Regions from separate parts of the Homo sapiens genome. Here region 2 is linked to region 1. Evidence: fine-mapped expression QTL. A gene starts in region 1. The other region holds a variant in brackets. All regions are shown on one strand. Distances are from middle to middle.

Region 1 (5,360 bases):
ATACCTCTCTGTTCCTAAACTCTACTCTTGAGGGAGATGACAGAGGTGCCGAGGTCTGAGGCAGGCAAGGCTCAATGCACGCACCACTCGCAGTACCCCCCCCGCCCCCAGAAGAGCCTCCACACCTCCAGGGTCATGAAGTGCTAGCAGAACCTCCAGCCCCCAGGGAAAGCCTGTATTTCAGAAAAGGGGCCCTGGTAATTATCTGGGCAAACATCATCTCATTGGGGCCTGGAAGGCAACCTCCTCAACACAGTTCTGATTAGTACCAGGCAAAGTTCATACTCTTAAGTGCTGGTCCTTAACCTGAAATCTCCTAAAAGGACAATGAAGTGTTGCATGGATCTCCTCCGCTGAAATATTAACCTGTGCACTGACTGCTGTGATCCTGTGCGTCGCCAAGGGCCATACCCCCACCCCCTCCAATACCAAGCAGGTAACCGCCAGCTCCTAGTGCCCAGAGAGAGCTAACATTTTGGTGGATGGAGAAGGCTGTCCCACCTTCTCTGTTTTCTTTCTTCCACGATGTCATCCAAGCCACCCATGGGTTTTACACTCTTCTTATCTCAGGTGTTTCTGCTCTAACCAAAACCACAATCTCTCTCAACAGTTAGGACACCGTCTTAGATCCAGAGAAGCGCACCAGCCTCTGAAGTGGGCCAAGCCATTCCCCCACCCCAAGGCTCACAGCACCCAGACAGGAACTAACAGAAGACGATGGGTTGCTGTTACGATTTTCCAAAGGGATTTAAGCAAGCACAGGCTCTTCTTTTTGCTCGCCCCACCAGAAAACTCTATTTCCCCATTATCATGACCCCTCTGGGAAGACCCAATATGTCCCGCTACAGTGGAAAAAAGGGAATGCACCTTTTGCTACCAGAGAACAAACCGTCCAGATTGACCCTGGCTGGGAAAGACTCCAGCAACCAATTCTTCTGCCTCTATCCACAGGGCAAGTCCAGCCAGGGGATCCAGGGGGAGCCGTCAGTGAAACCACCCCCCATCTTGCCATTGCTTGAACAGTACTCCCTGGCCCTTCATGCCAGGTGGGCACATCCACTGCCCTCTCCTCACCACCCCTTGCCCTTGAACATCTCAAGGAGGCCTATCTCTTAACCTAAACTTCCTACCTAAAAATAGAAATGACATCTAGAATTACAGAAACAAGTCTGGCCCAATCCGGCCTCATGGTGCTACTTGGTACTGTATGCTGCAGGCCAGAGCAAAATAAATGTTTCTTTCTTGAGAGAGACATCACAATAGGCACAACTGCGTGCTGTGTGTTCCAGCTCCCTCTCTGAGCCTTCTTGCCTGATGGCACACGCGTGCAGGGCTGGAAGGGCAGACCTGCGTCACTGTGGCAAACCTGCTCTCCTGGTTTTCTGTTAGCGCCATGTGCAAATTACTCAGCAGAAAAGGCCAAGAGAAGCTATAACATCTTTATCTGAAGCAACTGAAAAAGTTGGTTTTTGCAAGTATGGCTGTCGGAAACACCAAAGCAGCACTTACTTAGGTTCTTCTCAGGGATGGATACAGGCTGGCTAGGAGAAGGTGGGAGAGGGGCTGGCTGGGGACTTTTACAGCCAGCCACAGAGATGGCCCTGGACACAATCTTGCTAAGGGACCTCAGACCACAGCCCCAGCTCCAGCCTCCCGGCAGGCGAGCAGCGCCCAGCACGACTCCAACCAGCCACCGTCCCTCCCCCACACCCTCCCCAGTGCTGTCAGCGTCCTCACTTCTTCTGGAAGGCCAGGAGCAGCCTCGGGTCCAGGATGTTCTCCTCCGGCTCCCAGCTGTTATGTCTGCAAAGCAGAGGACAGGGCAGCATTAGACGCCAGGCTGATGATCACCGCTTTGCAAGGCAGCCCGAGGGGGCTCGCCCTCACCGCTCCTCGACTTGGGCCGATGGCAGTGGCACCGTAGCACCATGGCACTTCTCAAAGTCCAAACCCAGGTTTTGGAGGCTGGCCACCCCCCACCAAGCCAGCACTCTAACCTCAGACCCAAAGGGAAACTGCCGCTCCAACCCCCCAATTAAAACAAGGCCACAAGAGGACTCCCACAGTCTCTGCCTGGGAGAAAAACAAACCCCCATAAAACGCAAAGTTGCAGAGAGGGATTCCCCCAAACCCTGGCCCGGAGCCAGAGGAGGAAGGGAAGGCAGGTCCAGCATGCAGGGAGGGGCACAGGCGCCCAGCCCGAGATCCAGAACAATGTGGCGCGCGGGCCGGGGCACCTCGAGGGGTAGCGAAGAAAGAGCGGGGTCCGGGAAGACGCAGAAACGGGGCCGCGGGAGCAGCTGTGCAGAGAGCCCCTTCCGGGGATGCCAAACACCCTCCCTTCCATTAAAAGAAAGAAAAAAAAAAAGAAACTCTACATCCATCAATAGCAAGCTCAGGTTACAGCGGGGAGAATCTGGCCAAGAGGAGGGGGGCTTGCATCCCGCGCCTCCCTCCCGGCCGGGACGGGGGTTGGGGGGAGCGCGGCGCGGCAGCCGAGGAGGTTCTGGCGCGGGGGGCCGCCCAGCTCTGCACCCGCGGGCGTGTAAACAAAGGGCAACCTCGGGCCGGGCGGCCCCCGCCCCCCTCAGAGCCGGAGGAGCCCGCGGGGACCCCGCGAACTTCCCGCTCTGCCCGCGGGCGCCCCCAGGCCACCGGACGGCGCGGCCGAGGGGCTCCACGTCCCCACCCCCGGGCGAGGGGGCGGGAGGGGGGCGCGGCGTCGCGGGGGACTCACTTGGAGGACCAGCCGCGCCACTTGACCAGGTACTCCAGCTTGCCCTGCGGGGAGAGAAGAGGGGCCGTGAGCCAGACGGACAGCGGGCGGCGGGCGGGGGGCCCGGCGGGCCGCACGCACCTTGCGGAGCCGCTTGCTCAGGATGCACTCGGCGGCGAAGACCTGCTCGCCCACGCTGCTCAGCTCCTCCATGCTGCCCGGCAGCCAGCCCGACCGCGGCGCCCGCCGCCAGTCACCCGCCCGGACCGCCGCGCGCCCCGCCGGCAGCACACAAAGCACCGCCCCCGCCCGGCGCCGGCCCGCCCCGCGCACGCGCACCGCCGCTCCGCGCCCGCGCCCCGGCCCGCCGCCCGCCCCCGCGCGCTGCCCAAATCCCGTGCGGGCCAATCAGCGAGGGGGGGCGGGTGCGGGGCGGGGCGGGGCGCGCATTGTCCGCGGCGGGCTGGGCCTCGCGCTCCGGCGGGGGGTCCCGCGCGGGGCCCCGGGCGGGGGCGGGGGCGGGGGTGGGGGCGCGGGCGGGCCCCTGGCTGGGGGAGGAGGTGCCTAGGGACTTCGGGCCTGGGGCGCCCACCGAGTCCCGCGTGATTCCCGGGGCGCGCCCGCCCTTGCTCCCAACTCCGTTTTCCGGGCAAAAAGCCATTGTTCTGGCCCGAAGGGAGGGAAGCGGGACGGGGCGCGGCGGCTGCTTCCTGCCCCCGCCTTCGAGGGGCGCTGCTCCGGGGCACGCGGGGCCCCACCCTTCCCCCGGCTTCTTGAACTGGCTTTTCCTCGGCAGCGGGGGAGTCGCTCTGTTTTGGACGAGAGCAAAACGGGTCGGGGGCTGGGGAAGGAAAGGAAGACGAAGTCCGGGGGAGGGGCCCACAAACCCCAGCAGCCGAGGCTTTTTCCCCCAAAGGCGAGAGAGGAAAATGCTTTAACTTAAACCACCAAGCACTCTGAGAAAGAAGTAATACGAACTGCCCGGAGTTCTTATTAAACAGCTATGAAAAGTGGATCCAGCCCCCGAGTTTTAGGGCACGTGTAGGGAGAAAACCAGCTGCACCTTTTCTGAATTTGTTCCCCGATTTTGATGAAATGGAGGGGGAGGGGGCGGTTTGCAAGGCTGTTCCTAACTTCGGACTAGGTCAGTAGTGGCCCGCCAGGGCTGGGCAGCCGGCGTCCTTCGGATCAATTGTCCGCGGCAGAAAAGGGTCAGGCCATGTTATGAAAGTGGGGGTGACCCCTTGTCCTCCCTGTGATCGTCGTCAGCAGGCTACCCTTTTATTCCGGTGTTAAGATTCGAATTCCATGAAGAATCACCCTTTAAGTTATTTAGATTTTGAATCAGGACAAGTCAAACACGTAATGAAAGAGACCTGAGCCTTAGCTTCATTCGTCTCAACGCAGTCTAACTCCATGAAAATTCACTCTCTGCTTTTCTTGCTTCCTTGAACACAGCTGCAAAATTCTCTTTCTGTTGAGCAGATCCAAAAGTCGTTTCTTGTTGTAGGAGACTGTCTCAATGTAATTGTGATCATCAAAACCATATTTATAAAGGGTTCTGCAGGAGAAATGTGTTTTTTTGTTTTTACAGAAAGGCCTACTGGAGAAAATACTGAACTGTAGGAACCGATCTTTCAATTTATGGCGTGTTCTTCAGTTTCTTTGGTTAGATAGGTTACATTCATTTGATTTCCTGGAGAGTACGTGCAAATTCAGATGTTGTTTGCAAAGAGGGCAGGAGAAAGGGAAATGTCCTTGGGGGGAAGGTGTTTGTTTACTCAGGGGCAGAGGCAGTAAAGAATCCTTGTGTTGGGATAAAACTGGCCTCTGGAGTGAAGGGATCCGCTAACAGTGTCTCCGCCGGCTCCTTTTGTATCCCTGTCTTGTGCAGCTTGGCAGTAAATTGTGGAGTTGAGGGCAAAGGTGTATTTATTGTAATCCTACAAATAGCTGGATCAGTTTCACATCACGTTTCCTTGCAGAATTCATCTTGGGTCTAAGATTTTGCCCTGGAAGTTTCCAGTTTCCTCTTTGACTCATGGTATGCTGGGATACTTGCTTGATTTCTTTTTAAAGAAAAGAAGGCTTTGAAAAGGGAATGATTTCTTTGCTTAAGAAATAAATTTGCTAGAATTTGATACTAACACATTGAAAAAAATAAATCAGCGTCCAGGAAGGTTTAACATGTACATCATCTACCCAACTGCAAACAGTTTGGGTAAAATAATATTTAGATAATTCATTTGGAGAAACAAATATGACAGATTTGGCCAGAATGAAATAATCAGATACATTCTGTGAACGTGTGATCCAAAATCTGTGGCACGTTCCCTAAAAACAAAGCTGGGAATAGGCAGAAGGGAAGAATAACCCCCAGCTAATCCAACTGTGTAAAACAAGCGGACGTCTTCCGTTTTGACTGTCACATTTTAAGAATTATTAAGACAAGTTAAAACTAATTATTGTATTATTCATTCGACAGATAGTTAGTATGTACTATCATGTGGGCACTACTAGATATCCAGTAGTATAAGACCGTAGCAGCAGCTCCATCTGTGGGTGATGGAAGTGGATGGACAGAGCCTCCCTCCACTGCGTCCAGTGTGGTGGCCGTTAGGCACCTGGGACTGCTGAGCACTGG
Region 2 (5,364 bases), 900 kb after region 1:
TTTTGTTTTTTATAGATGAGGTATTGCTATGTTGCTCAGGCTGGTCTTGAACTCCTAGCTTCAAGCAACCCATCCACCTTGGCCTCCCAAGTGCTGGGATTACAAGTGTGAGCCACTGCACCCGGCCTTTCGAGGCAATTTTCTTTTGGGGTCTGTCTCCCTCCCCCAATTGTGGGCATGGCTTGTTCTTATTTTCCGCAGGAACTTCCATAGTACTTCTGTGGACACAGGAGGATTGGAAAGATGTTGGTGGGTGTATGAAGGGGACGTGAGGACGCAGGACCCACGTGTTGATGGCAGCAGAGGGGACACCGAGGAGAGAGAACAAGGGAGGACCGTGCCACAGAAGCCGTGGCGTCTCTGCCTGGGGCTGGCGTGGTTGGAGTCTGTGGAGAGTGCCGCCCCTCCGGCCAGCCCTTGGCCCTGGCACATGCTGGTGACACCAGGTTCTCCAGCAAGCCCCCTTCACTGTCTGCTCCCCTCCGAGAGCAGCAGCAGCCGGTCCGGCCTCTGATGGTTTTCCAGGGGCGGTTGTGACTGTCGAAGTCTGACCGTAGCCCATCCTCTTTGGATCGTCTCCCGCGACCTTGGTTTTCCGCCCACCCGGTTCTTTTCCGTCCCCACTCTGGCGGGTGCGCTCGGGATTGTTTTTGCAGGGGGGAAGTGACATCATATGGTGTCCTGGGCTGGAGGGGTGGGGGTGGGGACCCTGCAGTTGCGTGTGCTTTGAATTCAGCCGACGGTTGTACATTCCAGTAGCCGGCATCTGGCGGTGAATTCATCAGCCAGTGTATCACCCTTGATCTCAAACCCAGATGTTGTGTTCACAGCAGAAGGGAAAGAAGGAAAAACGAAATCTGAGACGCCCAGGGAGAGGCCGTGGTTTCTGGGCTCAGGGCAGTTAGAACGAGAGTCTTTATAAAGACTCCCCCTCTCGCAGCTGCCTCTGGCTCCTTGGGGAAGGGGCAGAGGAGCAGAGCAGCCCCTCTCGGGGGCATGGACAGGAGATGGGCTGACACCCACCCCAGTGCCTAACACCAGGCCCAGCACCCAGTAGGTGTTCAGTAAACGTGTCTGTGCCACAATTTTCATTTCTTCCCAGATTCCTTATGTCTCTTCGCTTTCCCCAGCCCTGTTCTTCACATGGCCTGGGACTCGGAGAGGCCCTCCCTCTTTTGAAGTGGCCTGCTTTCCCCTACAGAACTGGTGGTCCATCCTGGAGCTCAGAGTGCGGACCATTGCCATTGGCATGGAAATGTATTCCGGAGAGCTCTCTCTCCCTCCTCCTCTGTCCACCACTGGGCATTGGAAACTCTCCTTCTCTGTGTTCCTATCCATCGTCTGTCATCTTGCCTGGATTGGATGCTCCTCCCAGGCAAGGCCTGCTGTATGCAGGATTCACCCTGTACCCTCTCTTCACCTGCTGTCACCTCTGGGCAACAACCCCCGACAGGTACCCGCTGCTCTGAGCAGGTCAGCGGTGCAGATCCCGCTATGCCAACTGGTGTGCACCGATCAGAGCTGTCAGCTGGCCCCTCTCCTTCATGTCTGCGGCGTGCTGGTGCTTTGGGGAAGGTTGCCGTGGAACTGGTCCTTCTTTGCCTCTCTTGATTCCCATTTTCCTTCTTTCATGTAATTTCTCATTTTGCAAAGTGGGGGAGGAGGTGCCCACCCCCAATTTAAAGGGACCCTGAAGAATCTGAATTCTGTTCCCCAGGGGCAGACTAAAGCAGCCCAGGGGAGATGGAGATGCCCTCAGGCTCTGCTCCTCCAGGCCCCTCACCCCCACTTCCCTGCCCCTCACCCCCACTTCCCTGCAGGCATCTGGCGGCCTCCTCGCCAGTTCACTTTCTAGTCCTAACCCCACGTGGCTACCCTGGACCCTTGATTTGACCAGCCTCCTCTTTTCTGACACTTTAAAGAAGGAAAGTGTGTAATCTGCAGCCCCCAGGCAAAGCTAGCACGCTGGGAAGCTGCATCAAATCGAGAGTCTGTGGCCTGCTGACCAGGACCGGGTCTGTGTACCTGAGTGGCATGATGCCACCGTCCCAATCCCTCACCCACGGGAGCGGGAGAATTCGCCCTGCTTGTCTATGCGATGCTCGTGGTCCTGAACTGTACACGCATTAGTTCCCGGGCACCGCAGCCTCCACACCAGCCCCTCTAACAGTCACCACGACCTTGTGAAGTGTCAAGACTGTTGTCATCGTCTCTGTCTTAGGTGTGAACAACTGTGGCTCAGTGAAGTCAAGGAGCTTCTCAAAGATCACGCAGCCATCCAGGGGTGAATGCAGGATCTCTGTCTCTTGCTGCCTCCTTCAAATAAGTGCCCAGCTGCCACCTGGGAGCCTTAGGCGTTTTTGTAAGAGAACAGCATGTGAACCTCAATGCCCATGGTAGGATGCAACATTTTGGCCGTTTTGAAGTAATCTTTGCTTATTTTCTGAACTCCAGTGACATGCTTGTTGA[G/C]TGCCTATTGTGCGTTAAGCATTGTGCGGCTTAGTGGACCATTGAAAGGCAGCTCCAAGGCCGGGCGCGGTAGCTCATGCCTGTAATCCCAGCACGTTGGGAGGCCGAGGCAGGCGGATCACGAGGTCAGGAGTTCAAGACCATCCTGGCCAGCATGGTGAAACCCCGTCTCTACTAAAATAAATACAAAAAATTAGCCGGGCATGGTGGCGCGTGCCTGTAATCCCAGCTACTTGGGAGGCTGAGGCAGGAGAATTGCTTGAACCCAGGAGGCGGAGGTTGCAGTGGGCCAAGATTGCACCATTGCACTCCAGCCTGGATGACAGAGCTAGACTCCATCTCAAAAAAAAAAAAAAGAAAGAAAGAAAAGAAAAGCAGCTCCAGAAATTTCCAAAATAACATACAGAATTCAGCAGACTGTAATAAAGGCCGGCTTGCTGCTCCTACTGGAACTGTTGATTCCTTTGGATTCTGCTGGCTTGCTTTTTTTCCTTTTCTTTCTTTTCTTTTTTTAAAAGACGGAGTCTCACTCTGTTGCCCAGGCTGGAGTGCAGTGGCATGATCTCAGCTCACTGCAACTTTCACCTCCTGGGTTCAAGCGATTCTCCTGCCTCAGCCTCCCAAGTGGCTGGGATTTTTGTATTTTTTGTAGAGATGGGGTTTCACCATGTTGGCTAGGCTGGTCTCAAACTCCTGACCTCAAGTGATCCGCCCGCCTCGGCCTCCCGAAGTGCTGGGATTATAGGAGTGAGCCACCGTGCCTGGCCCTGGTTTGCTTGTGAGCTGGTGACTCTGCTACATGAAGAGCAAACTTTGACCAAGTTAATCTGGCACATTGACTAATTTGCATAAACATTTTTGGTGCAGCATTGTCGTAAGGTATATAGATTAGGCAGGGAGCAAGAGAGCCAAGGACAAACTGCACCTGGGCCACCAGCCCAAAGTTGTCAGCGTCATCTCAGCTCCATCTGGCAAAGAGTTAGTGAGCACCAACTGTTCTGCAGTCAGAATCTAGCCTCAACCTGTTAGGACCTCCCAGGGCCCTGAGCAGACAGGTGTGCAGGAACTGACAGCAGGATGGAAAAGAGATGGGGAATATACCAAGTGCTGCAGAAGGACAGGATTTCCCAGAGGAAGACAGAAAAGGGCTATTTTAGCTGGGTCTTGAAGAATGAAGAAAAGTTCTCCAGGCAGAGAGGGGAGATGGCATTTGGGGCGGAAGAAACTTGCCTGTTCAGGCTGGGTGTGGTGGCTCACACCTGTAATCCCAGCACTTTGGGAGGCCAAAGTGGGCGGATCACTTGAGGTCAGGAGTTCGAGACCAGCCTGGCCAACATGCTAAAACCCTGTCTCTACTAAAAATACCAAAAAAAAAAAAAATTAGCCTGGCAAGGTGGCAGTTACCTGTAACCCCAGCTACTCAGGAGGCTGAGGCAGGAGAATTGCTTGAACCTGGGAGGTGGAGGTTGCAGTGAGCTGAGATCAAGCCATTGCACTCCAGCCTGGGTGACAAAAGTGAAACTCCGTCTCAAAAAAATATATATGGTAATTAGCCAGGCATGGTGGTGCCCACCTGTAATCCCAGCTACCTGGGAAGCTAAGGCAGGAGAGTCATTTGAACCTGGGAGATGGCTGAGATTGCGCCACTGCACTCCAGCCTAGCAGGGGTGGGGATGACAGAGCAAGACTCTGTCTAAAAAAAAAAGAAAGAAAGAAACTTGTCTGTTCAGAGGTGTGGATGCACCTGGGCGTGTTCAGGGCAGACAAGTATTATGAAGTGGTAGAATAGTGGGAGCATGGGTGGGGGGTGTTGGGCACAGCAGCTGAGGCCCCTGGCTGACTTCAGGTTGCAAAGGCGCTCATATTTTAGGGGAGGGCAGGGGGCAGCCAAGGATGATGTTTGAGCAGAAACGAACGTGAATAAAAAAAGACAGCTGGTTGCGGTGGATGAGAGGATGGTTAGGAGGGCACTGGAAATAGGGGGCCGTCAGGGCAAAGCCGTCTGTTCTGGAGTGGCCTGCCGGGAGACATTTCCTAGATGTGGCTTTTCAGGATGAGGCATGGATTAGCCTGGGAAACAGGAACCTGTGGCCTTGGCCAGTCATGACTCAGCTCCAACAGAAGAAGAAAGAAGAAAGGGGTTTGTGCCCAGGCGAGGCAGTGGGGCTGTGGTGTGGGACTCTGATGCCAGCCTGGGATCCAGAGAGCATTGGTGGGGCCCAGGGGGATGGACACAGATGGAGCACCCACACGCCTGAGCCTCCTTGCCCCTGTGGGAAGAGACAGCCCTGCCTAAGGGGTTCTAAGAGATTTGAGCCGACCACGTGGGGTGGGGCTGGGGCTGGGGCTAGGAGGCTGCCTGGAGCCTGGCGTGGTCTGCTCCTTACCTCTCTGTTTTGCTCATATCCACCGTAACATAACACTTACCCAGAGTGACCCTGAAGAGCTGAGTTTGGGAGGGCAAAGCTTTTAAAGCCATTAAAACAGACCATGTCACCAACTAATGGCCTTGAAATTAAGAAAGGGAGGGCTCTACCCAACCCTGCCCAAGTGACAGCATGAACTACTGATCTGCTTGTCCTCAGGTTACCAGGAGTGGAACAGAATCCTGGCTTAATTGCTAGGAGAAAGCCCTGTGTTGCATGGCCTGTCAGCAACCTCAGGCTCCAGAATATTCTGGAATTGCCCCAGCCCAGCCTCTTCCCCAACTCCTTTCTGTTTGGTTGGGGCTTAGTTGGGATCCTCTTTCCTTCTGTTTGTCCTTCCTCAGCATCTGTCCCTTGGGTCTGCCAGCTGTGCCTGCCGATGTCTCCTTTGGGTGAAACTTCCTGCCCCTGCCCCTGTTGTGCCCCTGATAGACTCTGTGTTACTGTAAAGAATCACCCAGGCTGGGCG

Evidence for each region. PIP is the estimated chance that this variant, and not a neighbour inherited with it, causes the effect. A credible set is the group of variants that fine-mapping cannot tell apart.
Region 2: its variant is the best candidate, but not a certain one, in a credible set for the expression of CBX2 in whole blood (TOPMed, PIP 0.63).

Annotation. Positions count from the first base shown.
Region 1 is chr17:79,775,805-79,781,164 of GRCh38, reverse strand. It overlaps CBX2 (chromobox 2), which reads right to left and starts at 3,017. Exons shown (of 5, transcript NM_005189.3): 1 at 2,858-3,017; 2 at 2,738-2,781; 3 at 1,738-1,803. The coding sequence starts at 2,929. RefSeq lists an enhancer at 1,764-2,357 and silencers at 2,753-2,822, 2,833-3,212.
Region 2 is chr17:78,875,169-78,880,532 of GRCh38, reverse strand. All of the region lies in intron 1 of TIMP2 (TIMP metallopeptidase inhibitor 2), which reads left to right. Among named protein-coding and RNA genes, the nearest start is that of CEP295NL, 25 kb to the left of the region's middle. RefSeq lists enhancers at 1-766, 767-1,660. The variant G/C (reference allele first, on the strand shown) is at 2,470.